4 linked regions of the Homo sapiens genome follow. The protein of the gene in region 2 purifies or fractionates together with the protein of the main gene of each other region. This does not show direct contact. Each region holds a gene or a part of one and is shown on either strand. Other genes may lie near its edges.

Region 1 (7,990 bases), on a different chromosome or scaffold from region 2:
TTTCATGCAATACATACTTGGTTCTCCAAATAACAACTGTGTGACATATAGCAGAAGGAATTAAGGAATGCTGCACTTGTGATCCATACAAAACACCAACATTTTAGGTTGTACATAATTAGAGAAATATCTGAAACACTTTTTAAAACACTGTAGTAGCCAATACATAGAGGCATGCCGTAGGTGGGCACAGGAATGCAGTTTAGAAAAGAAAAAAAAAAATCACATAGGAACTACTCAATTTCTTTAAAATCACTGAGCAAGAACAGCAACATTGAACTTTCATACTGATTTTACACAACTTCTATACAGTACCTTGACTTAAATCCAAGAGCAAAAGTTAAGACTCTCCTCCTCTATTTTTGGTAAACAACTGCATGGTAAACTTAGATGACTCTTCCCCCTGGATTTTACCTGGGAGTGGCCTTTTTACATTTTTATTTAAAAGAGGGCAGGTTTGGCACTTTTATACTGATGTCACCAATGTTAATATTTCTTGGGATCTCAGGAAGATTCATATTCTTTACAGCTGATACAGCACGGGCTGGAGCTCCTGCTAAGCCAGCCTGTATACAGAAGCAAATAAAAGAAAAAGAAAATGTACAACTCAGGTGTAGCTCATCATAAAACACTTACAATGGAAGACAATGATAAAAGATTTTCATATAACAAGCTTAGGGACCAGATGGTAGTTTGAATTGGTATGGAATGGTTACTTTGAAATACTAATCTATAAAGAGAAAACAGTGACACATTAAAAAATACAGTGAACACATGCAATGATAACAATGTAAAGATTTAAATACAAATTAATGTGCACTACCACACAATATTCACATGATAAAACCTAAATCTTCACCTATATCTTGATTTAACTGACAGATAGCATGAAGCATGATTTACATTAGTTTCCTTATTAAATATCTCTTGCAACGATTGTGATAGATTTTCTTTTGCTTTTAAAATGGCATTTATTAGCAATATGTGCTGTGAAATAAAAATTGCAAGTAATAGATTGTGCTTGTTTAATTTCTTAGGGATAAACCCTTAAAACATTTTAAAACAATAAAATTAGTTTTTTAAATTGTGAGGGCTCTTTTAAACTTTTCTAATAAAGTTCTAGAACATTAAAAAAATAGGCTTTCAAGTAAAGCCTCAATCCAAAGAATATAGTTCTGCCTAAAGATGAAACTACACGAAGAGGATCATTCCAACCCTTTGATGCATTAGTAAAAATATAACGATTAAAAATGTTTTGTCATATAGCATAGATTCAGCAACATATATTCAGCTTACAGTTTACAAATTTAGAGAAAGAAAAGCATAAATGCAAGAGGTAGTAAATATAAATAAATGAATTCTAAAATTTCCAGTAAGTACCACTAGTGCATAATATTTGGCTTTCCTATTAGTAGGAACATTTGTAATTTGTGAAATAATTTTAAAAGAAAATATGCTTACAAATAAAAGAAAATGCATACATATCATTTTTCTCACCTACGTTAACAGCCTTCATATTTGAGGTTTAATTTATATACCAATTACATTTCATTACTTTTTATTCAGGCTATATAATAAAGCAAAGTCAACAAAGACATCTGAGTTCAGTGGCATCATTTTGTACAAAAATAGACAACAAAAACGAATCTTCCACTTTGATTAGATTATATATGGCAATGTCCATAAAATTAGAAACACTAGCTTTAAGGTCCCTTTTCATAATTTTAGTTTTCTTTTCTTATGTAATCCTACCTTTGTTAATTAAAATAAAAATAATAATAAAGCTGTTACCTGAGAAAAATCTTGACTGATACAAAATAGGCCAGTGTAAACTATTTGCTAAATAAAGGATACAAACATTGTTAAGCAATGAAATAAAAGCCATGGATTATCAATTCAGAATTGGAAATAATAGAAAAATTAGTAGAATAGTATTAATAATAAGTATATTCTACACAGGCAATGATAAGAGTGATACAAATGAATAACTCCATACCCAATTAAATAGTGAATAGGGCTGGAGAAGTTTTATAATTTAATGGATGTTAGTTATTTTTGATGTACAACTAAAAATGTGATTGACCTCTATACTTATACCTACCTGAAGCAATGAAGTTTTTGTTACCCCCCCTTCCTTCCTGCTCCCCCAAAGATGTTGGAGATACAACTAAATAATAATTAAGGCAGCATGTATAATATTTGAAAGGGTCTTTAATTTGATCGTTTCAAGTTAAAGGTCTAGCTACCAAAATTTAGAGTGGGTTGGGATCAAAGAAGAATCCAATTCAAAGAGGTTTACCATCTTTTGGCTTTCTTTTACCAGGAAGTATGTTGTCTACTAAGGAAGAAAAATTTACAAAATTGCAGACGTCCTGGAGGTAGTATCATTTTTTAGATAGGAGGATTTTGTAATTTTTCTAGTTAAAAGACCAATTTGCCACTATTTTTACTTAGGAATTTCCATAAAGAAGACAAATAATGAACTGACTATAGAAAAGTATTGACAAAATATTTGAGTATAAATATTTTAAAGGTGTGAATTATTAAGGGATTTTATTATTGTGAGAGAAATTGTGCGTGTGTGTGTGTGTGTTTATCTGTGTATTTTATTGGACACTATGGTTTACACTTATAAATAGTAAACATAATGTTTTCAGTATTAAATGTACATGAAGCTCTCTTTTCCATAATATCCTGTACCATGAAGAGCTAAACTAAAGCAAAAAATAAATTAAAAAAATTTAAAAATGCATCCTGTTAAATTTCATTAGATTGAGTTGTATCATTGTGACCAAAGATGGTGTCGACTGTTGGCTGCTAACAAGAATACATAAAGTCAATATAGCAATTGATTTAAATAGCATATTTGTGCTTAATATGTAAAACCAAAAGAAGTTTCTAAGTACAACAAACTACAATTCTTCTAAACATAAGCAGCAAGCCATAGACATGCAAAAGATAGGAACTATTCAGAACACGCAAATGAATTAGGAGGATCAAATTATTTCTCAAGCATGTTCAATACTTTTGTGTAGTATGCCATGAATTTAAATGGTAGGAAAATTTAAAGTTGTAATAGGTGCTTTAAGTTTTAATTAAACTAACGTTTTAAAAAGAAATCATATTATGCAAAATATAAAATGTTGAGAAAATATGATAAGGACAATTGATCAACAGATGTTTAAACCAGCTAGCAATGTTTATATATAAAAATTTAGGGCTAAAAAAAAAGACTTTATGTCACTCAGTCAACACCAGAATGGCTATAAAACAAATTTCATTTTCAGACATTCATGAAAGTGATGCCTGAAACATTTTTATTAAAACATAAAATGTAAAGTAACTTTCCATTAGGCAATCAGTTTGCTGACACAGAGGTATGAAGTAATTTTCATCTTGGTTAAGATTTTTTTTTTTTCCAGTAAGATACATTCAAAGCAACAAAATAACTTTTACTAACACTTAACTTTTCAACGCTAAAACTTACAGAAATTGTTTACCTGACTTGTTAGCAGTACAGTAGTCCCCCCTTACCCGCAATTTCACTTTCCATGGTTTCATTTACCCGTGGTTAACTGTGGTCTGAAAATAAGTGTGTGCAGTACAATATTGTGATAGAGAAAGGCCTCAATCACATAACTTTTTTTTTTTTTTTTTTTTTTAAGAGACAGGGTCTCACTCTGTCACCCACAGTGGAGTGAGTGATGCAATCATGGCTCACTGCAGCCTTGAACTCCTGGGCTCAAGTGATCTTCCCATCTGTCTCCTGAATAGTTAGAACTACAGGTGTGTCCCACCACGCCTAGCTAATGTAAAAAATATACATTTGTAGAGATGGGGTCTCACTGTGTTGCCCAGACTGGCTCAAACTCCTGGCCTCAAGTGAGTCTTCTGCCTTGGCCCCTCAAAGTGTTGGTATTATAGGCGTGAGCCAGTGCACCTGGCCTCACATGACTTTTATTGCATTATACTGTTATAACTGTTCTCTTTTATTATTAGTTGTTAATCTCTTACCGTGCCTATTTTATAAATTAAATTTTATCATATGTATATATGCATAGGAAAAAACATAGCATATATAAGGTTCAGTAGTATACACAGTTTCAGGCATCCACTGGGGGTTTTGGAATGTACCCAACACAGGTAAGGGGGGATTACTGTAAATACATTTTTAAACGTAAAAGTAAGATATTTCTGACAGTACAACATAGTTCTTAAAGATTTAAGATTATATAGTTGACACACAGCAGAAATAAAAAGAATGAAATTCTACTGGAGAAATAACTTGTTTCCATCTATGTTATACCTGAGCACCACCATGGCAGGTAAAACTGCAGCGACTACACCAATAAAAACAAATATATGAATCCAAAGCAGTTAAGAATATGAACTGGATGAAAGAATGAAGTACAGTATATAAAAGAATGATCATGTTTTCTCTCCCATGAGATTAAATAAATTAACAGAATTAAGAGAAAGAAAACAAAATGAAGTCTGCAAGTATACCAAAATGAGGCCAAACAGATAAAGACTTATACAGACATACTCTTGGAAATTTCAAGCACTTGAATCACAAAGATAGTAATGGATGGATATGATTTGTTTTTGATTTTGTTTTTAAATTGCCAGACCCAAAAATAAACAAAATATGTGCAAGCAAAACTGAAAAAGCAGCATTACTAAAATGTATTTCGAAGACCCTGAAAGCTCCCTTTTCCTCATGCAATAAACAATCAACTTTCTTGAAGGGAAAAGGAAAGTAATAGAGTAATCTTGTTATTTATTTCATCTAAGACATAAAATACCATCCTACCATCTTAAAATATCTTTTTTTTTTTCAAGTTTGAATACAGCATAATAAGATGGTAGTTGGAACAAACTGTACGTATTAAAACCTTTACCCACCCTTCCTGCTGGAAGTTGCTATATGCACATTCATAATTTTGACCTAACAGCAAAGTGAAAGAACACCAACATTAATAAACACAATATTAAATGGTTTCAGACTCAAAATCATTAACAAAATAATGGCAGATTTTGAAAGCATGTTTTTGAGCAAAAAAGAAAATGTCAATAGTTTAAAAAATCCCTCAACACGAGGTAGAATAACTTTTAATCTGGGGATATATAATAGGCTTTGTTTTAATGGCAGTGCTTTAATACTGCAATTATAAACATTTAGATAAGCTCATGACAATTCTCTAGACAGCAATAACTATGGTGTTTCACAGTTTTAACAAAATTAGAGTGCTCAAAAATTTAAAAAACCTTCCAAATTATTAGTCATTTTGTACGGATTATCTTCAATTATAGCTTTAATTTCAAACATAGGATTTGCCTGCATGAAAAAAAGAGAGCAGACTAATGACTTTCATGGATTTATCATTACTAGTTTTGACCATTACAAGTGACCTCAAGGGTTCTCACCATAATTTTGTAGAAGTACAAGACAAATGTGTATGTCAAGGTAGAGAGGCAGAACCAGCTCATGAGCTGACCTTCCACCATCAGTACCTTAGAGCCACTTTTCTTATTCTCTCCTCTTTGAAAACAGAAACTTGATTTTTTTTAAAAAAGGCCAATTAACAGTTCTAGCAATAAAGTTAACAGACCCAAGTGATTAATGGTTCTTTGCTGGAAAATAGCAGTAATAAATTACATACTGTAACACAGAAACTGGCAATAATTCTGACCAATGGTGAGAATGAGACTACTATGTATTCTCTATATGAGGGACAAAATAACATGGATAGAGGGACCAAAAACGGTACCCCAGTTTTGTGACATAGCCCACAATCTCAAAATAAGATACTATAAAGCCACCTGTATGTTGCTACTTCTTCTCAAACACATCGAGAGAGTAAGTAAAAATTTAGTGGCTAAAAGGCAATGCTTTGTGATATCACCACAATCATCAATTCTCAGTGATGTTTTTCTAATTAGTAAGTGCATAATCTAACTTCGTAAGTTTATACATTTTTTCCTCCATAGGACTCAATAAATTACTTTTATTTTGAAATTTTCAATCAGAGACCTTATAAACATTTCTTTTGCTTACATGGTTTCACACAAAATAGTTGCTCATCACCACGTACATGGAACTTTTAAAAAAGTAATTCACACAGTTAATTTATGGTGTGAAAAAACGTACAGGAAATATCAGAAGAAAAATTAGTTTTGTAAAACTAGAGGTCTATTAAAAATATTTCCAATATTTGCCAATACGCTTTGCAAAAATATTCAGGGTTTTTAATTCAATACTAAAACATTAATATATTTTTATTGATTCTGATTATGACATGTTTGGATGTCAGAAGGTTTGCTACAATGAAAACCCATTGTATTTTGGTGATTTGGTAATTTGGTAATTCCATTTTTCGAGCATTCTAGTTTGAAATACAGTCAAGTTTTATAAGATTTCTGATCTTATTTTCTGTTGGCCACTGTTAATATGCACCTGCAGGTCAAAACTGTAAAAGCAATTCTGTTAAGACTTTGGAACTGAAAACCATTTGAGGGGAAAAAGTACTATTTAACAGTCACTATTCTAAGCCTTCACTGCTTCCCATTTTGTATGCAAAACTCTGAAGGTTCAGCTTTTGGTTTTTAAATTCACAGCTTCCAAAACCCAGCAGGCAATTTTATGTTAGAATCCTAATTTAGAGATGGAAAAAAAACAAATCTGTGAGAGTTAAATTAAGATTGGTTCTGCTATATGATGCTCAAAATAAATTTTACGTTTTTATATACAAAGTAAATTGTCACTTCTGCAAATGCAATTTGTCAGTTAGATGACAAGTGTTTAAAAAAAATTTAAACTTTCCTTTTACAATGCAGGCAGACAAAACAGAACAAACATGACATCAATGATATACTAGTAAAATACACTAAGTCCAATAAAAGATGAAGAAACTACAAGGAGAAACTAGAATGGAAAATAGGCTACAGGGACTATATGGGTTTATTAACACAAAGAATTTTTGAGTCTGGCCTAAATAATTAATTGCCTTTGACATCATTTTGCTTTCCCTTTGTTATAGTACATATTTCTCAAAGTCAGCAATACCTTGTCTACCTGTCCTGTCTGGGAGACTGAAAGATAAAGGTCTGTAAGAGAGAAGAATGGAAAGAGCTAGAAAGATCAGGATGTTCGGAAAAAAAAGAGGACTGACTTTCAAAAAGTAGTGACTAAATTCAGACCCATTTATCCATCTTAAGAATAACATGAAATACATAAAAGCTAACAGATCTCCCCAACCCCACCCCTCTACCTCCACCCCCAGGGAGTCCTTTTATTCTTAGGCAGGTTCCTGAGTGCCTCTTATACTTCCCCCGAATCCCATCAACCTCCCAGCTTAAACCCTCCTCTCCCAATATTCCAATGTTATAGTAAACCATTTTTCTATCAAAATAGAATAGATGGAAATACATTCAGAGTATATCTTTGCTTCTCTCTTTCAGGATCTGGCAGAGCTTTGCTTCCACCTGTCTAGGTATTGGGAATTAAACTGGTTCACTTTTTTCCATTACCAGAAATGTACTAACTTTAGACCAACATAATAAAAGCTCTGATTTCTGACAAAGGCCCCTAGATAAATGCATGTTATGTTTAAAAAGCTGTGTCTCAATTATACCCAGACTGATTTTTAAATATAAATGATGTTCCTAAGATATTACTTAAATAATTTTTAAAAATATTGATAACCAGTTCTTTTCATCAATCATGACATTCTCGATTTTAAACAAGTCTTTTTTTGTGTGTTTGTTTTTGAGACGGAGTCTTACTCTGTCACGCAGGCTGGAGTGCAGTGGTGCAATATCAGCTCACTGCAACCTCCGCCTCCCGGAATCGGGCGATTCTTGCGCGTCAGGCTCCAGAGCAACTAGGATTACAGGCAAGTGCCACCATGCCTGGATAATTTTTTTGTATTTTTAGTAGAGACGGGATTTCACCATATTTGCCAGGCTGGTCTCAAACTCCTGACCTCAG
Region 2 (8,167 bases):
CTCGGCTACGCAGGCGTGCCCACAGGAAGCCAAACACGACGGCAGAACAGCTGCAGACTTCCAGCCCAGAAGTCTTGGGACTCGATAAGCAAACAGCTATCTGAGAAAACAGACTTCATGAAGACGACTGGCTGAGATAAAGATATTCTTAGGAGTGAGTTCACCACAGAACCGCTGGGGACAACCGCCAGCTGCTCCTCTCTGGAGAGACGTCCTTCTGTTCCGATGGGTGAACCCACAGCCCCATCTCAGGCCACACTGGCACTAACGAGGACCGAGACAGCGTGCCATCGCCTCCCAACCAGACAAAAAGGAGGCGTGACCAGTCCTTACCATATTTTTTTCTGATTTCATCATGTCTTGTCTTCATCTCTGCTCTCCTAAAACACAGAGGAACATTATGAGCACCAAACGACAGCGCACGGTGGTGTAACTGCTAGACACGCCCTTCCGTGTCCCTCAGTGGGGGCGCCAGGTTTCTTCTGGTGGCTTCCCTCCAGTTCCCAGAGTGAAACCAGGGTGAGGACAAGCTTGGTCATCAGGCCACATACCCACCAGGACAGGCAAGGTGACAACGAACCCAGTCTTCAAAGGCCGTTCCAATGTATTACTCTACTCTTTTCAATAAAAGCAATTCAAATGCCCAATACCGTGATTTTTAAAAAGCTTTTTTCATACAAAGAAAACACAGTAAAAATCATACACCAGGTTCTGAAGATGGTGAGGAAAATGCGATTGTCAGCTTTTACTTAGTAGCATGTGACTTCAAGGTGACTACATGGAAAATCTGTCCCGCTTCCACCCTCGCCCGCCGCCAACCTGACAGTTGGCCCCTCAGGTCCTCTCCTTTGCCAGGTGTGGATTACACCACCTCCTCCTGGGGTTGCCCCAGAGCCCCAGCAAGCACTCAGGAGAGTGCTGTGTCACCAGGGAAAGGGCGACAGGAGAGCTGACCCAGCCACAGTCAGACGCTGTCCCCTCTGAGCCTCAGCTTGCTCTTGGCAAATGCTGGGCCTGGACGAGCCGCCTTAGCAGCCGTCACACACCCGTGTCACCGCGCACAGACTCAGCCTTACTGCACCGATGGGAGGACACCGGGCGAGGAAGCCTATAGAAGCAAGGTTCGCAGCCACTGCTAGGTTCCCATCACAGTCTCTCGCTCTCTACCACGACCTAGAAGATCCCCTGGGCACTATACACATTCTTAATTTCTAAAAACTGAGGAAAACTCAGGATGTATCCATGTGATTTCCATGGCCTTGCAGATCTGAATCCCCTCGAAGTAACCTTCCCAGCGGGCATCACCACCACCTCACCGTTCCTCCTGCCGTATCCGCCTCTCCTCCCGCTCACGCATGGCCTTCTCCTCACTCCTGTCCGGCTTCCGGCTCCTCTTCCTCCTGCAGCAGCAGCAGCAGCAGATGGCAATGCCCAGGAGGAGGGTTCCCCCGACTACCGACATGGTGATGATCAGCGCCTCAAAGTTCACTGGAGATTCAAGCACCTGGAGTTAGGGCCGCCCCAGACACAGAACCCACCCAGCACAGCAGCCTTCCCTCGCCCCTGGGGAACAACCTCAGGACACAGGAGCATAAGGAGGAAAGCCGCCTCGGCCAGGCTGCTGGCTCCTGGCGTGTGGAGAGCCTGTGGCCCTGCCTCCACCCCACAGGGTCCCGCCCTCTCCAAGTCTCCTTTCAGCCACACGTTCCTATCTGTGACTTAGAATTTATTAACAATTTATAATATTAACCATAATGAACTGAAGTGACAGGGTAGTCTGTCTCAGCTGAGTTTGAAAAGGTATTTCAAGCCTGAGAAAAGTTAACTAACCAAAATTCCAAGCTACATACTCAGACTCTCGTAAGACATTCTAAACTCACAGAAATGGAGGTTAAGCCTGATGCAGCTTTCTTTTTTTTTATTTAAACCAAAGTCAAGAATATTACAATGATTTACAAGAGAAATAGACTCTCAGGGCACATACTGGCGGCCAGGTTCGAAAAGAATGACCGTGGAGGAGCGGACGAGACCACGGAACAAGACGGGATCATCTTCAAATCTGAGTGTTTTGAGGACCTTGGGGCTGAAGAACGGCTGGCTAATCGGTCCCAAACCCTGTTATGATTTCCTTAACCAGCCTTCAGACACACGTGCACATTTAAAACAGATCTTACTATCCTTTTAAACTTCTTTTGAAGATCTATACATTGAAATCAGCCAAGATTTTTCCATTCAGTTCAAACCAGAGGCAATTAAAAAATACCCTAAAACTACTTTTGCAAATGTGTTTTCAATCATGTAGTTCAAACAGCCTCCTTGGCTGGACACAGTGGCTCACACCTATAATCCCAGCACTTTGGGAGGCCAAATCGGGAGGATTGCTTGAGCCCAGGAGTTCAACACCCGCCCAGCCAACAAAGTGAGACCCAGCCCTGCCCATCTCTACAAAACTGTTTAACAAATTAACTGGGTGTGGTGCATGCACCTCTGGTCCCAGCGACATGGGAGGCTGAGGTGGGAGGATCGCTTGAGCTTGGGAGGTTGAGGCTGCAGTGAGCCGTGCCTACACTATTGCACTCCAGCCCGGGCAACACGGCAAGACACCATCTTGAAACAAACAAAAAACACCCAGCCAGCCTCCTGAAGATGGCTTTATAAGCAAACTCCCCTGGGCAGTAGATTACCGCATGATTCACTGTTTTTAACTACAGTTAATAGCTGTGCCACCACCACAGGTGACACCGTCTCACCTCCAGGGGCTGGGAGTTGAACACTTGCTGCATGCCTGGGCCCTGGCAAGGAGGCCGACGGCCAGGCCTCTGGGGCTCCCGCAGCCTCACCCCTCTGCTGCCCCGGACGCTGAGATCCGCATTTCTTAGTTTATTAAAATAGTTTGAAAATCAGGAATAGGAGGTTACATCTGATCAAATGCCTTTTGAGCTTTTAATCCTGTGTTTTTTCCTCCTCTGACCTGTTCTGGAAGCGTAGAATTGCAAAAATTATAGTAAGAGGGAGAACTACAGAGGGGACCTTCATTGGCAGAAGATGTCATTTTCTGACTGGAGAACTCCAATGAGATCAACAAGATGGCTGGCCTTAAAACATATCTACCCCTCAGATAGCTTTTCTGATTAGCAGCTAAAACTAGTTAAAAACAAACAGAAATCCTGTCACAATGGGAAACAAACTCTGGGCTCCTTTTGCTGATTCCATAGGGTAAAACCCATGAACTTGAACTTGAACCAAAGGATGTGGGAGAGGCCTGAAAGAGAGGCATCTTTGCCTCTGGACAAACGGCCAACGCTGTAGACATTTCATTTTCCTTCAAGTAAGCATGTTTATCAGGCCATTACAATTAAAGCTCCAAAATAATTTTGGCTAGAACTGGATAAAATGGTTCTAAGGTTACCTGTAAGAATAAACAAGGACCTGTGGTGCAAGACCTAAAACGGGTATCATGTGCGCCGCGGCATCTGGTGAAATCAGGAGGGCCCTGAGGGCCCGGCCACAACTGCTCCTCCCCACTCTGCTCCCGTGGGCAAGGCTGGACAAGGTCCCAGCTCAGACAGCCTCTTCCTCCTCCCGGCAGGGCCAGGCACACTTTCTGTTTCTCCCGGAGGAGCAGGTGTCAGTTCCCTCTCAGCCTCAGAATTAACCAAACAAGCCCATCGCACCCCACCCTCCTGTCACGAAATGGCTGCCTCCCCGAGCCCTGTTCCCCTGCGGGACCCTGCGTGGCGTGTGGTGCCCCCTCCCCACTGTGACTGTGACTAGTCACCTGCTGCCGCTCTCATGTGCAGGGCTGGGTGTTGTGTGTCCATCCACTTCTGCAGCCTAGCGTGGGGATGTCATTTCACAAGAGAATTGTCAAAAACACCCACCACTTGTAAAGGTGCTCAGCACGATCGGCTAGTCACTGCAGAAATGCAGGTGAGAAGCACAAGACACCACTACACACCCACTAGATGGACTGAACTTAGGGTGACTGGTTACCCTAAACATTGGGAAGGATGTGGAGCAACCAAGTCCCACATTGCCTGAGGGAGGCCAAACTGGTACAGCCACTCCAAAAACATTTGGCAGACGTACTAAGGCTAAACACAAATATGCTCCGTGACACAGCAACTCCACCCCTACACTCCTCCAGACGTGAGCGCCTGTGCCGGCACCAACACAACACCGCTCACAGCAGCACCAGAAGGACCCAGGCGTCCCTGAGTGGCAGCATGGCTGAACAGCTGTAGAACACTGCACGAGAAAGATAACTGGTGCAGGCAATTGACACGAATCTCGGGCACATGCTGAATAAAACATCCAATAAAGCACAGGATTTCCTCCACATAAAGGCGGGAACCAGTAACATTAATCTGTGGTGACGGGAAGTCCAGTCAGTGGCTCCCATGGGGGTCCTGACAGGAATTGGGCCTTCTGAAAGTCCTGGAAGTCCTACCTACTTTGCTGTGAGTGGTGATAACCTGTATACGTATGCAAAAATGCACTGAATATATGTACGCACACACGTGTGCATTATGTAGGCTATAAGCCGCGGTCCATGTAGGCACACACGTGTGCATTATGTAGGCTATAAACTGCGGTCCATGCAGGCACACATGTGTGCATTATGTAGGCTATAAAGTCCATGCAGAGAGAGACTTCAGATGTGTGCACTTCATGAGAAGCTACATGCCATTAAAAACACCTCCAGAACAGGTGTTCCAAAGGGCAAGGCTCCCCAGGTCCAGGAGCTGTGTCTTCAGAGTGGTCATTAAGAGAAGTTCCATGGAAGGGATGAGTTCACAAACACACATGCATCACACACAGTACACACATCACACATGAAGGTGCACACACACCACCACCACCCCCTGCCAGACATCCCACACTACAACCACCACCACCACACAAACTTTTGAATTCTCTAGGGCCTCAACACCAGCAACAAGTTGTTTCAGATGGAGGCTGATAGATTTTGAAATGGAAATCAATTAGAAGAGTGGTAAGTAAGACGTAAGTTGCAGAGGGATCCAAGATGCAAATAAACAAAAAGAATCATCAAAACACCTTAAGAAAATATTGCTTCTTTACAAAGTTTAGGAACCCTATGTATTACCCCAAAACCTGAAGCCTAAAAGATTAATAAATTCAACTACATAATAATGAGTTCTAGGTTACAAAACACACCACAAACTGATTTAAAAGGCAAACTACGGGGCTGGGCGCAGTGGCTCACGCCTGTAATCCCAGCACTTTGGGAGGCTGAGGTGGGCAGATCATGAGGTCAGGAGATCGAGACCATCCTGGCTAACACAGTGAAACCCCGTCTCTACTAAAAAATACAAGAAATTAGCCGGACGTGGTGGCGGGCACCTGTAGTCCCAGCTACTCAGGAGGCTGAGGCAGGAGAATGGCGTGAACCTGGGAGGCGGAGCTTGCAGTGAGCCAAGATAGTGCCATTGCACTCCAGCCCGTCTCAAAAATAAATAAATAAATAAATAAAGGCAAACTAGAAAACAACTTGAATCTCACAAGAGCTGATTTCCTTAATTTAAAAACGCCTCCAAAATCAAATATACAAAGATACGCACACAAAAAAAGAGGGCTGTCTACGCAAGCAGGGATTCTTAAGCTGGGAAAACTGGAGATTCTAGGGGAATTCACAGGTGAGTTTCAGGGGTGACACATGAACAAAACATACTGAGCAGAGAAGTCAAACACGTTGCCTTCAAACTCACCCTTTTCCCCACACCTTCTGTAACGTGGTGAGATAGAGCTCAGTGCTGGGGCTGACCACCTTGAAGGAGGTCCTCCAGGTTCCCCAGGGCTGCTTTCCCGGTCAGCAGATCACCCCTGGCTTCCCAACCTCTCCCTGGGAGTCACAGAGCTACTGGCAGCACATTTTCTAGCAACTTCTGCTAACTGAGCACATAATACTATTTTCTTTTTTTTTTGAGACAGTCTCGCTCTGTCGCCAGGCTGGAGTGCAGTGGCACGATCTCGGCTCACTGCAAACTCCGCCTCCCGGGTTCAAGCAATTCTCCTGTCTCAGCCTCCCAAGTAGCTGGGATTACAAGTGCATGCCACCACGCCCACCTAATTTTTGTATTTTTAATAGAGACGGGGCTTCACCATGTTAGCCAGGATGGTCTCAATCTCCTGACCTCTTGATCCACCCGCCTCCGCCTCCCAAAGTGCTGGGATTACAGACGTGAGCCACCGCGCCCGGCCCATACTACTATTTTCAAAGAAGCATCGATTTTGCAAGCAGCAAATGAAAACAATGACTTACCCCAACAAACTCCCCAGCGTGCAGAGCTCAATTTACAAAGGGAAGCCGGTGGCAAGACGCTTGTAACTGGGTAGTCCAGACAAGCCTTGTTAGTGTTGCACCAAAGACACTGAAAGAGACCAACATTAAGCAAGCATTAGAAACAACAGAAAAACCAAAGAACTGTCCAGGCTCTGCCCACAGCCCGCCAGTGCTGCCATCGCTCTGTGGATGGCTGTAAAGGCTCAACCTCCCCCTCAACGCCTCATCTCTGCCTTCACCCTCAGCGCCCTTCGGTCCACACCCAGCACAGCGGCCAGCAGCCCTGTCAGCTCTCCACGGACTCATCCAAGGCCCGCGTCACTCAGGCCTCTTCCACAACTCACCCTGCTGAGGCCACGGGGCCTCTGTGTTGGCAGCCTCCTGAGTGCTGCCAACCCCACCTCATGCTCTCAGCCTCAGCTCAGCCTGCCGGTTCTGCCTGGAGCACTCTCCCCACATCTGTGTGGCTCCCCACTGACTGGATGGGCCCTGCCTCGATCAACAGACTGGACACAACCAGCCGCCTCCACCCCCTCCTCCTCACCTCCTGTGAGGTTTGCTTCCGTAGACCTCTCCTCCCCACACGCCGGGCACCTGTGCACTTCACTGGCTGAAGTCTCCCAAGAACACAGGACACAGCCTGGCCCATCACAGGCACTCACTGAGTTTGTGTTGAATGGACTTGGGTGAGCATGGTCACCATCTGTAGCAAGGACCATGCTTCCTACCTCTGACCTTCACAACTGCACTAAGTCGCACAGCTTGAAAGATGATGCAACTACGGCTCAGCCCGCCCTAAACTGACAGCTGGAGAGAACCTCATAGACGCTCTTGTCTGAGCCCCTTGAACGTCAGGTGTGAGGCCGCAGTGGTGTGGAGACAACACCATCACACCCGTGTGTGTGTGTGTAAGAGCCCAGAGCTGGGCCCAGCCCATGCCACAGCAGTACACAACGAGGCCCGAAAGCGGTCTGTGAGCCAGGCACTGAGCGTGACAGGGGACAGCCTAGCACGCAGGCAGATGGCACAGGAAGGGGTGAAAGAACTGCTGTTCGGGTCAGGCACGGTGGCTCACGCCTGTAATCCCAGCACTTTGGGAGGCCAGGAGGGCGGATCACCTGAGGTCAGAAGTTCGGGATCAGCCTGACCAACATGGAGAAACCCCATCTTTGTTAAAAATACAAAATAAGCCGGGCGTGGTGGCACATGCCTGTAATCCCAGCTACTCCAGAGGCTGAGGCAGGAGAATCGCTTGAGCCCAGGAGGCGCAGGTTGCGGTGAGCCGAGATCGCACCATTGCACTCCAGCCTGGGCAACAAGAGTGAAACTCCGTCTCAAAAGGAAAAAAAAAAGAACTGCCGTTCGGCAGCACCTCATGCGCCAGCCCAAGTCCAGACCCAAGTCCAGACTGCCTGTTACTCCCAATCTCCACATTAACAGTGTTACTGACTTTTTAATAGGATAGAAAGTCATGGCGTTTTTGGCCCAGGTTAGGGCAAAAGTCTATTACAAAAAAATATTAATTACAATGTCCCCTGGGCCTTCTTTCCCAGGGCTACTTATACAGTGACCACCTTAGTGTCGTGTTTAAGTGGTTTCCAGCATAATGTAACAATTAACAGTTAAACCCTGTTTATTCTGGTCATTTGGGAGTATCTTCCATTTCAGGGGTTTTGCTTGCAATTAACGATTTTTGGCTAATCCTCCCTTTTCAAGTGGCTCAAGTTGTAAATGTCTGATTTTCCATTTTTCCATGACAGTGGTACCATGAGCCACAGGACTGCACTGGGAGGATACGGTGTTCTCTGGTGGTTGTGCTGCTTTTCTGATCGATGAAGTAATATGCACATAGCAAGCAGC
Region 3 (8,167 bases), on a different chromosome or scaffold from region 2:
TGCCCAGAAAGGGGCTCCCACAGTGCAGCGGTGGGCTGAAGGGCTCCTCAAGTGCCGCCAAAGTGGGAGCATAGGCAGAGGAGGCGCGGAGAGTGAGCCAGGGCTGTGAGGACTGCCAGCACGCTGTCACCTCTCAGTAGGATCACTGAACTGGTATTGGAAATATGGTGGTGATTTCAGATAACAGTGTCTATGTCTGTTTTCCCCAAAGTTTGGTTCTACGCAAAATCAGAGAACCTTCACCTTTGTGGGCAAAACTTTTCATTCTTCCAGTACATAGGTTGGAAACATGGAACAGCAACAGGAACTAAGAGGGCCTGCCAGACACTGTTTTTGACCAAAATTGTGAGACCCTGACTCACTACAAATAATCTGGCTTTATATATTTTCCCTTATCTTGGTCATACTGGATGTCTCCTAGTACTCTTTAGAGCAGAACATCAGGACTTCATCAGACCTTGTAGACTGAACTGCTCAACTTACAGGAAATTACGTTATAATGATCTCAAAATGATAAAAGAATATTTGATGAAACTCAACACTTATTTCTGATTTTAAAAATTTTATTAAAATTGGAATAGATGGATACTTTCTTAACCCATTAAAAAGAAATTCCGATAAAAATGCATCATTATGCTTAGGATTTGGAACATTCCTATTAGCAATGTCCACTGTCATCACAATTGTTTCATATTTGAGATTCTGGAATTTGGAATTGTCAACCAGTATCATCTGAAAAATGAAAGCCATGTACTAATATTGAAAAGAAGGACAACTTACTCTTTGAAAATATGGTTGTATAATAAATATACAAGAAAATTACTAAAAGTAAATTTCAGCATGATGCTTTCTTATGTTCAAGCAATACCCTATAAAGGGTCTATTTGTAATAGCAATAAAATATATTAGATAGGAATTTATAATAGCAAGTAATATATAAAATAGCTTGGAATAAGCCTAAGCATTTGTATAGGACCCTTTATGAAGACAACTGTAATTAAATGTGATCTCAATCAATACTGATAACACTAATATGACAAAATAGTTCTGAAGTGTAGTGAGATAAATATGTGAGAACAGTTAAAAAAAATTCCAAGGGGAAAAATATTTATGGATTGGGTAAAGGAACTAGCCCGTCATCTCAAATATTGAAATGTTTTATGAAAACCACAGTTGTTAAAATAGTTTAGTACTGACACTGAACTAGATCAGTGAAATTGAATGGAGATTCAGTAAAAAACCCAAATATATAAGTGTACTTAGTATATGTTAAAGTTTGTTTTTCAAATCAGTGAGAGAAAAGATGGATTATTCTACAGCATGTCAGGATAACTGGCTAGTAGTTTGGATAAAGATAAAGCCAATCACTGCTGCACTTTTATACAAGAATAAAATTGTGAATGGACCAAATACACAAATATTAAAAAAAAAAAACTAGAGAAATAAAGAAAACAATAGTGAATTTTCAGTGATTTTGGGATAGGGAGGACCTTTCTAAATGTGACACAAGTTTCAAAAGCCAAATATGTATATATACTTGACTACATAAAAATTAAAATGCTAAAGGTTAACTAAATGACTGAAATTGTTTAGTTTCTTTAGCTAAAAAACATGCTGTGGGGTAAGGGAGTGGATATTTGCTACATATTTGATAAAAGACAAATGTCCTTGAAAATCCAAAGGTTTTTTTTTTATAAATTAATAAAAGATAAGCCCTTAAAAAATATGTAAAGTTATACAAGAAACAATTCATAACACACATAAAAATGGCCAGGATACATGCAAGGATGTTCACTCTTCTTTATGAATGAAGAAATTCAAATTAAAGCAAGATACTATTTTATATTCATAAGACTGGCAAAGATTTAAAATTTACTTATCAGTAATGGCAAGGTTGTGGGGAAATCTCTCATACATTGTGGAAATGTGAATTGACGTGACTTTTTAAGAAGAAATTTAGCAGTAACTGTCAAAATTTTAAATATGCATGTGTTTTAGTCTATCAGGACCACTTAAAATAATTTATCACAGGGGTTACACAAAGATATATGTAAAAGAATGTTGTATCATTGTGTGTAGTGGCAAAAGTTTTGAAAGGGCAGATATATGTTGTGTCAGGCAGCTAGTGTATTATAGTACCACTGATAAAAGTGGAATATCCTAAGTGTTTAAGGATATATGTTGTGTCAGGCAGCTCGTGTATTATAGTACCACTGATAAAAGTGGAATATCCTAAGTGTTTAAGTAAAATTAGATATATGTTTTTGTTTGTTATAGAAAGATATGCAGGGTATGATCAGTAAAAAGGGTACCTTGTATTAAAATATGGATATTTTATTTAAGTAAAAAATATTTTGAAGTTAGAATTAAAGTTTATATCTGCATAGTAAAGGTATTTGAAAGATACATGTTAACATTAGCTGTCTATGGGGCTTGGCACTGGGTGGTTGAAAGGAATAAAGTAGGGGAATTTTCACTTTTTACTTTGTATCCTTCCATAACTGCTTGAATTTTTCCTTTTGTAAAAATAGGAACATGTTTTACTTTTTTACTTTAAACAAACAACAAAAGCAAAACAGTATCAGTTTAGATTTATATCAAAGCATAACTATTATATTACATGGGCCTTTATTTCTCATAATAGAAAATACAAAACCAGGGGCCTTTCCTGCTGGTTAAATAGCACTTGTTTATTTGAGAATATTTAACCAGTAGGCTTTATCCCAATCCAAAAGTACTCAAATTTTTGTTTTAGATCTTATAATTTGGCTAGGTAATGGGACAGATTTTATCACTGTACTTCTGGATTAGCAAATGACATTTGCCACTTAACAAGAGGAGCCACTCCCAGAACCCGAGTCAATGTGAAACTCCCCTCACAATTGCCCTCTGAAATATCATTAAAGCCCTCTTCTCTGCAGTCCCCCAAAATTATAGTTATCCAGTCTTGTATTTAACAAGGTTTGAGATTGCTTTAGCTAAGAACTTCTGTAAAAAGGCTATTTAATGTCACAGTTTGTTCTAACAACTAAACTCCCTTCTGCATTCTGATACACACATGAACCATTTTCAAACCATGGTCTTCCCAAGATAAGGCTTTCCACGTTTAATATGATGAAAGGGCAAGTGGTTATTCTCTCTTTGAAAGTACTCATAAGAATTCTGATGGATAAAACAAAATAATTTCCTCTAACACCAGGCAGACTAACCATACAAAGGCATGTTGCTGACTTCCTTCTGCATCAGTTGGTTGAGACCCGTAGTGTTGCTCTCCATAAGTAATCCTGTATCAGAAAATAGCATATCCCAGAAACAAAGTGTATTTTAGATGTCTGCTTATCAACTCTGGTTGAATGATTTTAAGAACCTAGTTTAAGTTTCCGTAGGGGTAATATGATTACTCAGGATGCATTCGTCTGCAGTATACTTCATGTTATGTAGGTTTTCCCACCTTTTCCAACATTTCTCCAAAAGTTATCCTTCTCCCAGTTTAACTGCTAAAATGCCATTGGTAGGGTCTTTGCACTTCAAGCCATCTTGAGGAAAAGCTTCCTTCTGAGAGTTAGATCATTTGGCAAGGGTCAAGAACAGAAAGCTGTGTTTTTAATCTAAAGGCTAAGGTCAGATTTATTCTTAGATTTCTCTTCAGATTCATCTGTACTTCAATATCTAGTTTCCATAGCAACTGAGATGCAGTTTGCAGGTGGGTAAGAAAAGAGAAATCTTTAGGTGTAAAGAAACTTATTTTTTAACCTAGAGAGAGAAGGTATCAGGCAACACCTTCATAGTTTTTATAGGCTAAAGCCTATATTCTTTTTTCAGGACTTCAATGTTTCACTGATAGGTGTCATTTCCTTTTTCCTGAAGAGGCCATTCAACTCTTCTTGACACAGTCGCAGAAAAGATTGCTGCTTCTGTGTTCTGTTTAATCACAGTCAAACTAATTAACTAACCAATTTAACAAGACAGCTAAAAGAACTTATGTGGAGAAATTATAGTTACTAGTAGAATTATTTCTTTTCAAATGGAATGTCTCTGCCTGATAATAGCCTTTTTTACAGGAAGTAGGTAGTCTCTTGTTCAAGTGTGACTGAAAGAATGTAGAATAGTACTTATGTCTGTGTTCTTAGTCTAACTGAATTTGGGGTGTATACTTGAGACCTGTTGAGTCACTTAGGTGGAGAAATGTTGGAGGGAGAGAAGTGCTATCACAAGTCTGCAACCACTAAAATGATAACATTAAAGAGATGCTCTAAGCACTTAAAGCATTTTCAGAGATGTGTAGCACTTAAAATGGAAAATTTATTTTTTTTAAGTTGTTGAAGCTGGAGGAAGTTTAATGTTTTGTTTTGTTTTAAATTATAGGAACTGCCTTCTGTTGAAGAACTCACTATTATTCTGCCTGAAGATATTGAGTTAAAGCCTCTTGGGATGGTTTCAAGTATTATTGAACAACTAGGTATGTTAAGAATTCTATTAATAAAAATTGTTTCCAAACACACACTAATAATTGAATCAATGACTTTTATGACTAGTAAATTTTCTTTGACATACGTAATTAACACTTTATTTTATAGTCATTAAGTTTGAAGGGATAAAATTCAGTTTTCATATACTAAAATTATATATAAATACAGTTTATTTATAGAAATTTAAATGTCTGCTTTTACTGACATACTTCCTCCGGAATTTCCTTTGATTTGGTTTATTAGTTTTCTAATGTTGCTATACCAAATTACTGCAAACTTAGTGACTTACAGCAGCACAATTTTATCATACAGTTCTCATGTGGGTCTCAGTGGGCTTAAAATCAAAGGTGTTAACAGGGCTGAGTTATTTTCTGTAGGTACTAGGGGAGAATCTTACTTCCTTGCTCTTTTTGGGTTCTAGAGCCTGCCCACATTCCTTGACTTTTGGCTCTCTTTCTTCATCCTGAAGGCCAGTAATGTAACGTCTGTCTCTGAGCCTTCTTCCATTATCTCACCTCACTCTAACCACATGTGGAAAGGTTCTCTGCTTTTAAAGACTTTTTAGATTGAGTTTACCTGCATAATCCAGGATAATCTCCCCTATCTCGTGGTCCTTAACTTTAATCACATCTGCAAAGGCTCTTAAAAATGTAATGTATTTACAGATTCAGGTATTTAGAGTGTGGATATCTCTTGGGGAGCCATTCTGCTCACCACCTTTGATTTTGTCTTAAAAACATGTGAGAAAGTTTTGTAATTTAATACTGTTATTAATGGCATGAAATATGAAGTTGCTGAGTTATAAGAGAACTTAATATTTTAGACTTCTTTAGCCCCAACATGTGAGTTTGTTCTGTGAGATTCTTGTTAATATAGGTACTATTAACTCGTAGTAGGATATGCTGGAGAATAGAACTCAGCACTGACAAAGTAATAGGATTTTGGAACTGTGAAGAGGACCTAGATTGCCCACCAGCCTCCACAGGACCTGAGGAAACAGAAAAATTCAAGTCAGTTGCTCTTAGGACCAGTTGTATAGTGAGTCAGTGGTAGAAATAGGACCTTTTTCTTTTGACTTTTTTCTAACAGTGTCTATATTGATATTTTTAAAAATTAACACTTACATAATTTTGTACTTTTTCAGTTTATTAATAAAAATGTAGATTAAAATGAACCTTCTTTTCAAAAATAATAATTAAAATTCTTTCCGTGATTCTGGAATCATTACATTTACTAGTTTTAGAGTTATGGTATTTAATAATATATATAGATAAATCAAACAGGCAACTAATTTCTTGATTATGTGGTATGATTTAAACATTTATTAGACTTGATGTATACAGAAAAATTTTAGGTCATAATGTTGATCCTCAAAAAAATAAATGTAAACTCTGACGTACATGGAATAATGCATGTCATTTTTGCATTTTTAACAATACTATTTTGACTAACATAGACTGAAAAAATTCTCAACCTAATGGGAATAAAGAGTAAATGGGTCAAAATCAGCACATGCTACTGTTGCAGATTTTTAATAGAGATTTTTAATAGAGACAAGGTCTTGCTACGTTGCCCAGGCTGGTCTCAAACTCCTGGGCTCAAGCCGTCCTTCCTCGCCAGCCTCCCAGAGTGCTGCAGGCGTGAGCCACCGTGCCCAGCCTGAAGTATCCACTGTTAAAATTAATTGAGATACAAAAGAAATTGTTTGAATTAATTTTGATAATCTGAGGTAATATATTTTATTCCCTTAGTTGACATGGTATTATCTATGTAATGTAACAGTGTTCTTACTTGTGGCTCTGATGTTCTAAAAACTTATTGAGAGTGTGTTTGTGTGTGCGTGTGTTTTCTCTTTGTTATGGTAGATCAGTTCTTTAATATTTGTGTCATTTAAAAGAACTGGAGATTTGGAGATTATGTTTTTGCTTTTTGAGGAGGGAATTTTCATGTAATGATAAAAATTACTGTGAGCTCTAGCACTTTTACTTCTTCTGTTCATAGGAAGATGCTTTTGTGAAGCCTTTTATTTAACTTTTTCATATACCAGTAACTAAACAGTGCTTTGTAGAAAAGAATTTTTAAGAGTGAGAAAGAAGACTAATTTCTTCTAAAACAGTTTTACAACTAAACGTGATTACACTATTTTTGGTAAAAATTACTTGAGAATATGTACATAGCTTGAATTTGTTGAATCTTTAATGGATGATTCAGATTTTCTGTGGGATTTGCATTTTAATTTTTTTCCCTTAGAATTATAGCTTTTTGTATTAAAAATAGGTATAAAAACATTTCCCAGTGCTATTTGGTAATAAGTAGACTTTGTTTACTGAAGAGAAAATGGTTAATGAGGTAATAATCCCACCTTCAATTTTTTTTTAAATTATGTTGGAATTAAAGCTTAGATTTTCATTAAAATTCTACATTCTCTTATAAGTAAATCTTGAAGTAATCTATTTTATTTTTCAGTAATAATTGAATCTATGACTAACCTACCTCCAGTTAATGAGGAGACTGTAATTTTTAAAAGTGATCGACAAGCAGCAGGAAAGGTTTGTAAAACATTTCAAATCTTACAAATTATTCTATTTATTTATTGTTTTTTTCTGACTTTCCCCATCAGTTCTCAGAAGAGTTTATTTATTTTAATTGATGGACAATCTAGAGCTCTCTAATTTCAGTACGTTCTTGATTTCCTTTAGTACTTCATATCTGTCTGTAAATTGGTTTAATACTGATTATTACTCTTTGCCACATGAGTTATTAAATACACATATATAGAATTCTTTCCTAGTGTTTGTCAGATAACTTGCTAGGCAGTGAGTCTACGTAATGCATAACACATCGTTTCCTACCGTCCAGATACTCAGCTGAGTGAAGAAGACTTCCCATAGTATAGTAGCTCTTAAGCATTTTTGTTTTGTGAGCTCCTTTGAATAGTGGCTCTCAGACTTTTCAGACTTTGACTTCCTCAGGTGGAAGCTCGGTGTGGAATCTTTTCCAAGTGGAAAAATATTTCACTGACAGCAATGAATTGTCACTGTAGGCACATCCTGGGGAATTACAAATATGTGCATTCAAGTAATTACTATAAGATTTGGTCCCTTTTAACATCTTTCTAATGGAACAACCCTGCATGTCCACCTTAATGTAGAAAACTGTGCACTTTACTCAGCAACTAGGCAATTCTGACTGGTTGGCAGAAGACATAAACATTCTAAAATCAAGAATGTAAATACTAAGTAAGTATTTATTTCCTGGCAATAGGGACAGTTTTATTCACCTTGATATTCCCCATTGTATCTAGTACAGTTCTTTGTAAATTATTTGTGCCAAGTAAATGTGTATTGAGTTGAATACAAACAAATAAGAAAGGAGCTATTTGTGATTTTCATGACAGTTGTCTTTTTTTCTTAGTACCTAACTTAGACAATTTTAATCTGAAAATACTCAACACTTTGCTAAATTAAAACCTCTAAACAGACATTTTTTTTGTATTTCCCACTACATTTGAATTTCTAGACCTGTAAATGTGACTAATATTAATATTCAGCTGTCATTTAGATTTGAAAGGAGTCAGATAAAATATAACATTTACACCTCTAACTTTAGTTATATGGCATAAGCCTGTTGGCAAAAATTAAATCTATTTCTAAATTTTACATAGAATGCTTTATAAATGCTTTTGAAAGACTTTGTGA
Region 4 (7,120 bases), on a different chromosome or scaffold from region 2:
AACGTCACAGTATGATTACCTTAAAAGTAAATTCTGGTATGCTTTTTTGGTGGTGGGTTAGGGGGAGCATCACAGAACTTTTTATTTTTTGAGATGGAGGCTTGCTCTGTCACCTAGGCTGGACTGCAGTGGCATGATCTTGGCTCACTGCAATCTCTGCCTTCTGGGTTCAAGCGATTCTCCTGCCTTAGCCTCCCAAGTAGCTGGGATTACAGGCATGTGCCATTGTGCCTGGCTAATCTGTGTATTTTTAGTAGAGATGGGGTTTCACCATGTTGGTCAGGTTGGTCTTGAACTCCTGACTTCAGGTGATCCGCCCACCTCGGCCTCCCGAAGTTCTGAGATTACAGGTGTGAGCCACGGTGCCTGGCCAGAGCTTTAAAATCACACATTCTAGCAGCAATAGGCAAATACAGGCCACCTTCCTTCCTTAACACTTACTTTCTACTTTTGAAGTCTGAAGATTTTCTATGGTCAAACATTTTCAAAAGGTTTGAATATATCTTTTCTTACAAATGTTGGAAGCAGCAAAGTAACAGTGCCAGATAAAAACTCCTTGGCTTAAGCAAGCTCACACCTACTGGGATCCTTTCCTTTCCAGACAATGCACTGCTTGGCCCACCCACTGGGAGCATGTAATATTGGCCTTGTGTAGCATCCTATAAGATTTCAGTGTGATTGAGAGGAAGAGGAGGAGGAAGCCTAAGAAACAAAACCTCTACACTCGTGGCAATGGTAGTCTCGGGCATCTTCTCTTAACCAAAGCTGTTTCTAGACGAACAAGTCTATTTCCTATTCCTTGGAGGCACAGATAGTCCTTCTGGAATCTCAGCCCTGATTTTGCTAAGTCTCAGCCATTGAGCTCAAGGCACGATGTGACAGTAGTTCTCAAAATGTAGTCCAAGGATCCATAGGTGTTCTGGAGACCATTTCAAGGTGTCTATCTGTATTTTGTATTATGAAAGCTATTTTCATAAGACAAAATTTTGTCTTATGAAAACTGTTTTCATAATACAAAATTAAAGAGTCTATTTTTTTCACTGTTATCTTGTCAGTGACTGCACTGTGATCTCAGGACAAACTGAATATAAGAGATGTGAGACTCTTGCTGTTCTCTATCAAGCCATGCATTAAAGAGATGTGCAAAAATGTCATTCTTCTCACTAAAATGTGTCTTTGAGTTGGAAGATTTTTCCATAAAAATTGTAAAAATTTCAGTAAAACTTTTTTTTAGAGACAAGGTCTCGCTGTCACCCAGGATGAAGAGCAGCAGTGGGATCATAGCTCACTGCAGCCTTGAACCCCTGGGCTCAAGCAATCAATCCTCCTGCCTCAGCCTCCCAAGTAGCATGAAGCCGCTACGCCTAGCTAATTTTTTTTTTTAAACTTTTTTTTGTAGAGATGGAACCTTGCTATGTTGCTCAGGCTGGTCTGGATCTCTGGCCTCAAGCAATACTCCTGCGTTGGCCTCCCAAAGTACTGTGATTACAGGTATAAACCATCCATCGTTCCTGGCCTGACATAAAAGTATTTATAGTAACAGGAAACATGTTATTTTTCAAAGGGATTACTTTAACACTTTCTATCTTAATTTTTAATATACTAAATATTGATAGAATGCACATAAATGGAAATGCTCTTAAAATTTTTTTTTCCAGACTATGAAGGGCTGCTGAAATAAAAGTTTGGGCACGGTGGCTCACGCCTGTAATCCAAAGCCAAGGTGGGTGGATCATCTTGAGGCCGGGAGTTCAAGACCAGCCTGGCTAACATGGTGAAACTCTGTCTCTACTAAAAATACAAAAAATTAGCCAGGTGTGGTGGTGCATGCCTGTAATCCCAGCTACTCTGGAGGCTGAGGCAGGAGAATTGCTTGAGCCTGGGAGGCAGAGGTTGTAGTGAGCCAAGATTGCGCCACTGCACTCCAGCCTGGGTGACAGAGCGAGACCCCCCTCAAAAAAAAAAAAAAAAAAATGAGAACCACTTTCTAGCATAATGCTGGCTGCACAGGAAGCACCGAACACTGACTACCAGACCATCCAGCATTCCACACGGTTTCCATACAACTTGTGTGATTTTTCACACACACATTTTCAGGAAAATTGGATGCCAGATTTAACAGTTTCTTCTGAGGTTCACTTTGACCAAAAGAAGAAAAAAGATAAAAAGCTTTTAGGAACAGATGAGAAGAACCACATAGTCCTTAACACTGGGAGTATGACTGACTACTGCATGTCACTTACAGAATTATATGTGTAATTTACATCCAAGATGAAACTTGCATGTCAAGCTTTTGAGACTCAAACCAGAGCAACTGCAAGCTTCTCACTAGCATCAACTGATGAGCACAAAAAAATTCTATCTTTGACACCTCTAGGTTCATGTAGTTTAAAAGAATATGGTTTTGTTCTGGGGTTCATATACTACCATTCCTCAATGAAGCTATTTTAAGTTAAAAATATTAACATTTGGTCAAACACAGATTTATAATTATCTATACAAACCTGGAGGGGCCCAAGATAGCTTGTAAGGTGGACTTTCTGAATTCTAGTACATGGTAGAATGGTCAACTCTTCAAGATAAATCTTCAAGGCAACAAAAACTTTGGGCAGATCTGTGGAATCTGGAATCAGTAACCCTGCTTGAAACCAACACTGCTCCCAAAGCCAGAGAAGGCTTCTGCCTTAGTTGTCGTTACGTGACAAAATTCACAACCTAACCCAGACCTAAGCACAGAAAGCTTTTATTACCACAGAGGAAATCAGGAAATGCTGGAGGCAGCCTCGTTAGCTGTGTGATCAGGGAGGGGACAGCAGGCGGGAACCCGTCATCAATCATGTCTGGGCAGTCTCCCAACCAACAGGTTTGTTTGGTTCAGGAGAGGCTTTTGCTGGGCTGTGTGTGTGTATGATCAGGAAGGTCAGCCTCAACAAATGGGCTTCTTCCTGGACATAGGACAGCCAGAATCGGGGACACCAGCTGCACAGACACCACCTTAAAATGGAAATCAAATTAGGTTCATTACATCAGGAAGTACATTTCACCCTGATCATAAAAGAGGGACAAGGGAGCACTGGGCTCTACTGGATAGCCTTTCTTTTAGATAAGATGCTTTTAAAAGTTAAACATTGGCAGGGCCTTTCCCCTAGCTAACAGCAAGCAGCACACAATTCCAAGTCAGCTTGTAAAGCTTTTGTTATCTTTGTTATCTGTTATTATTTGGATTTTGAACGAAATTGATGGAGTACGAGCCGGTAGAGGAATCCTGTTTGATCTGGAAATTTTCCGTGGAGAGCCCAAAAGGTCGGAGAACCAAGTTCCCAAGATCTTTTAATTTACCTGTAATGTAAAAGCAAAAACTCAAATGAATACAGGAATGAACAGAAGCAGGAAGGTACCAATTAATCTTGCCTTACCACTGAGTACAAAATATAAAAGTATCTCTTTGCAGTTAAAGAAATGCCTACTTTTAATATGATGAAAGCTTCCAGGAGAGTTCCCAGCCCCTATTCCCCACTCAGCAGTGCAGTCACTTTAATGCCATCCACCCTCAGCCTGTGCTTGCATAGATGAGAGTGGAGTCCTGCTGGCTCTCTCTGGGAATCAAAGCCTCCTGTCCTAACTGGCCAGTGCTATCAGAGGACACAGGCTTCTGGGGTGAGTTCTGGGAAAACCAACTGCTGTTCCAGTGAGGCTCAAGGCACCCTGCCAAGCCAGGTCTGCCTGGTAGTGAGGGCAGAGGTCCCTCCAAGTCTCTTCTCTCTAGAACGGCAGCAGCCACCTGCTAAATGTAATTCAACTCAGCCCATTTCCACTGAGCTTGGATTCATATTCAAGAGCTTCCTGCTTTCCTAAACAAATCCTTAGCTTCTATACCAGACTAGCCATTTCTTAGAAATGGGATCATCTTGATTTGCACAGCAACCTCAATAAGACCTCAATAGTCCAGCCTCCTCTTCCCAAGTTTCAGGCTTTATTTACACGACTTGGGTGAGGTATATAGGATGGGCGTGGTGGCTCACGCCTGTAATCCCAGCACTTTGGGAGGCCGAGATGGGTGGATCACCTGAGGTCAGGAGTTCGAGACCAGCCTGGCCAACATGATGAAACCCTATCTCTACAAAAAATACAAAAATCAGCTGAGGGTGGTGGCATACGCCTACAGTCCCAGCTACTAGGGAGGCTGAGGCAGGACAATCGTTTGCACCTGGGAGGCAGAGGTTGCAGTGAGCTGAGATTGCGCCACTGCACTCCAGCCTGGGTGACAGAGTGAGACTCCGTCTCAAAAAAAAAAAAAAAAAAAAGTCATGGTCTATAGCCAGCGGTTCTTGCCAAGCATGGTGACTCATGCCTGTATTCCCAGCACTTTGGGAAGCTGAGGCAAGAGGAGGGTTTGAGCCCAGGAGTTCAAGACCAGCCCGAGCAACGCAGTGAGACTCTATCTCTACAAATTTTTTTTTTAAAAACAAAAAACAGTTCTTATGCTGTTTTAAGATATAAGGAACATCTGAAACTAGGAATGTTCCAGAAAATTTTGGCAGGGATGGGTGAATAAACAGTTTCAACCCTTTCTAAACTGCTTTAATTTTTCTTACAGGTCTACTTCCAGTGGAGGTGAGAATGGGGGTGGACGAAAAGAGAAATCCCTAATCACCAGAGGTACAGGCTCCTTCCCACTTCTTAGCAGCTTTTCTCACTCTGAGGCCTCCCATCTTAGAGTAAAGCCCAGGTAAAGAACTTAAAGGTGCATGGCCTTGGCTGGGTGCAGTGGCTCACACCTGTAATCCCAGCACTTTGGGAGGCTGAGGCAGGAGGATCATGTGAGCCTAGGAGTTTGAGACCAGCCTGGGCAACATAGGGAGACCCTGTATCTACAAAAATTTAAAAATTAGCTAGGTGTGGTGGCACACACCTGTTGTCACAGCTATGCAGAGGCTGAGTTAGGAGGATTGCTTGAGCCCAAGGAGTTCAGGGCTGCAGTGAGCCATGATCATACCATTGCACTCCAGCCTGGGTAACAGAGCAAAAAAAACGCATGGCCTTTACATTTTACAGGCCTCCCTAATAACTCATGGTGAGAACTTTTAGTCTCAGGCTTAAGAACTAGCCCAAGGAAGCTCACTATGTCCAGAGAAAGGCCAACCCATCTTTGGATAAAACAGTAAATTGAGAAAGCTCCCAGAACCTGGGATGGCTGTTCTCCAGGCAGGCCTCCCAAACCTAAACCTGGGACACACACGTTCTGTGCTGCTGCTTGTGTCAGGAAATCACTGGCATAAACCCTGGGTGCCTGCACAAGGCAGCGGCACAGCCTCGGGCACATGGGCGTAGAGGGAGGGGCTCACAACAAGCAAGAGAAAGACAGGGCAGCCTCAGGGTGACCTGAGTTAGCAACACCAACCAGGAACGCTGGCAGTTTGTTCTGGGGTTGGAAAAAGAGGACAGGAAGGGGGAAAAAAAAAACCATCAAAAGCAGCCCAAGAAAATGTTGGTACTGGGAAATCCTTGGCTCTTGTGATATGGAGTGAGTGAAGTGAGAATGAGTATCAAGAGCCACTCACATCAGACTCCTGAGGAGGGGCAGCTCCATGGTGGAGAAGCCTACTCTGGATGGTCCACTGAGCCCAGGGCCATTACATGGATGGAGGGATCACTGCAAGCCCATCTCCAGTGCCAGAAAAACAATTTAAAGTACAAACTGGAAATTTTACTTGGCATCTATCATGTAAGCCACTGGGATGTAAAGAATAAAAGTAGCTTCTATGCACAATGCTCAGTCTAGTGGGGAGGCAGACCCAAAAGACGGAGGTGTGCCCAGAGGTGCTTTCTGACCTTGCAGTGGCACGAAGAGGCTACATGCCACAGTGCTCCGGGGGATGGGAATAGGTCCAGGGTGGTGGCATGTCACCGTGCTCCAGAGATGGCAGCTTCCTCAGGCAGCAATGGCTTGGCTTTAGGCTGGTCTGCACTAAAGGAGGTTTCCCTCTAGTGCAGAAAGACCATTCCAAGCTAAGACTGCAAATATTCAAACTGCCGACGAGAGGAAGAATTCTCTTTCCCAGGCCCTCGTTTTGCCTAACTGGCTAAAGGGCCTGTGTGCCACAAGCCACCTTTGAACTTTTAGCTTGGTTGATTCTATGGTGTGGCAGTCATGAAGATGTATTTCTCCAAATGCAGGGGACAGAGTGGCTGCACTCTAAAATCCATCAGCACATTCATGCAGAGGCCACCCTTCCCACCTGCTGCTTCCAGCCAATGCCTGAGCATGGGAGGGACTCGTCTGAGGGGCAGCACTGGCTCCCCAATGGCTTTGCTGAAACTTTCTCAGCACCACACTCCAGTGGAAAACTTCCCCGCTCCCCCGGCCTTTCCTCCTCCACAGGGGTCTGCCAACTCTGCCAACAGCCTCCAGCTCCCAGCCCCATTTTCCCTTGCAGGTGTTTCCCCCAGTAAATCTCTTGTACTTTTAATCCTATCTTGGCATCTGTTTTTTGGATGACCCAAACTAACACATAGATAATTATTCTTTTTCCTTCAATTCCAGTATCTCTGCCTTTATAACATTTCACATTAGTTTCACCGACCATCACTTAAGGGGGAAAAAAAAAAAGAAAATGCGAAATTCTGCTTTCTAAATGAGATTACATATATATAATACCTGGCAGGTAGTAGACACATAATAAAAGGCACACAAATAAATAGTCTCTGCGTTAGAGAAGACCTAAGGTCACCTGACATAGATTAATTCAACCAACATGTACTAATTACATGTGTGTGGCACCTTGCTATGTGTGGTAGAGATGCAAAGATACATGACATGGTCTATACACCAAAACAAGCTTAGAATTTGACAAGGAAGAAAAGACATACACACAAAACCAAATTCATATGTAGCTGAGTTATAAAATGCTACGAGAGTCAGGAAGGGGAAGATTCCTTTGGCTGGGGCAGGAAGACAGGAAAGGGGTGGAGGAAAGAAGAGATTTGGTCTATCTTTGTCTAAGAGTTTACACTTGAACCAGGCACCAAAGGCCATAGGACTGCAACCATATGAGACAGAGGTGCTGTCCGTGCAAGCCCAAACAGCGTGAGCCAATGCACAGAGATAGGCAGGCGAGCT

What was found.
Region 1: the proteins of PTTG1IP (region 2) and AP3S1 fractionate together in Homo sapiens (co-fractionation; one large-scale study listed by BioGRID). This does not show direct contact.
Region 3: the proteins of PTTG1IP (region 2) and NAF1 fractionate together in Homo sapiens (co-fractionation; one large-scale study listed by BioGRID). This does not show direct contact.
Region 4: the proteins of PTTG1IP (region 2) and TTC1 fractionate together in Homo sapiens (co-fractionation; one large-scale study listed by BioGRID). This does not show direct contact.

What each region holds. Positions count from the first base shown.
Region 1 is NC_000005.10:115,905,938-115,913,927, reverse strand, and holds part of AP3S1 (AP-3 complex subunit sigma-1), read right to left. Parts: intron 7,108-7,990; coding exon of another isoform or gene 7,072-7,107; exon of another isoform or gene 7,067-7,071; intron 1,840-7,066; coding exon of another isoform or gene 1,792-1,839; exon of another isoform or gene 573-1,791; intron 567-572; coding exon 438-566; 3' UTR 1-437. UniProt on the Homo sapiens protein: Part of the AP-3 complex, an adaptor-related complex which is not clathrin-associated. The complex is associated with the Golgi region as well as more peripheral structures.
Region 2 is NC_000021.9:44,854,877-44,863,043, forward strand, and holds part of PTTG1IP (pituitary tumor-transforming gene 1 protein-interacting protein isoform 1 precursor), read right to left. Parts: intron 6,396-8,167; coding exon 6,287-6,395; intron 1,489-6,286; coding exon 1,317-1,488; intron 381-1,316; coding exon 334-380; intron 1-333. UniProt on the Homo sapiens protein: May facilitate PTTG1 nuclear translocation.
Region 3 is NC_000004.12:163,144,633-163,152,799, reverse strand, and holds part of NAF1 (H/ACA ribonucleoprotein complex non-core subunit NAF1), read left to right. Parts: intron 1-4,365; coding exon 4,366-4,459; intron 4,460-6,935; coding exon 6,936-7,018; intron 7,019-8,167. UniProt on the Homo sapiens protein: RNA-binding protein required for the maturation of box H/ACA snoRNPs complex and ribosome biogenesis.
Region 4 is NC_000005.10:160,061,151-160,068,270, reverse strand, and holds the end of TTC1 (tetratricopeptide repeat protein 1), read right to left. Parts: intron 4,730-7,120; exon of another isoform or gene 4,615-4,729; coding exon of another isoform or gene 4,598-4,614; intron 3,340-4,597; coding exon 3,206-3,339; 3' UTR 2,728-3,205; downstream 1-2,727.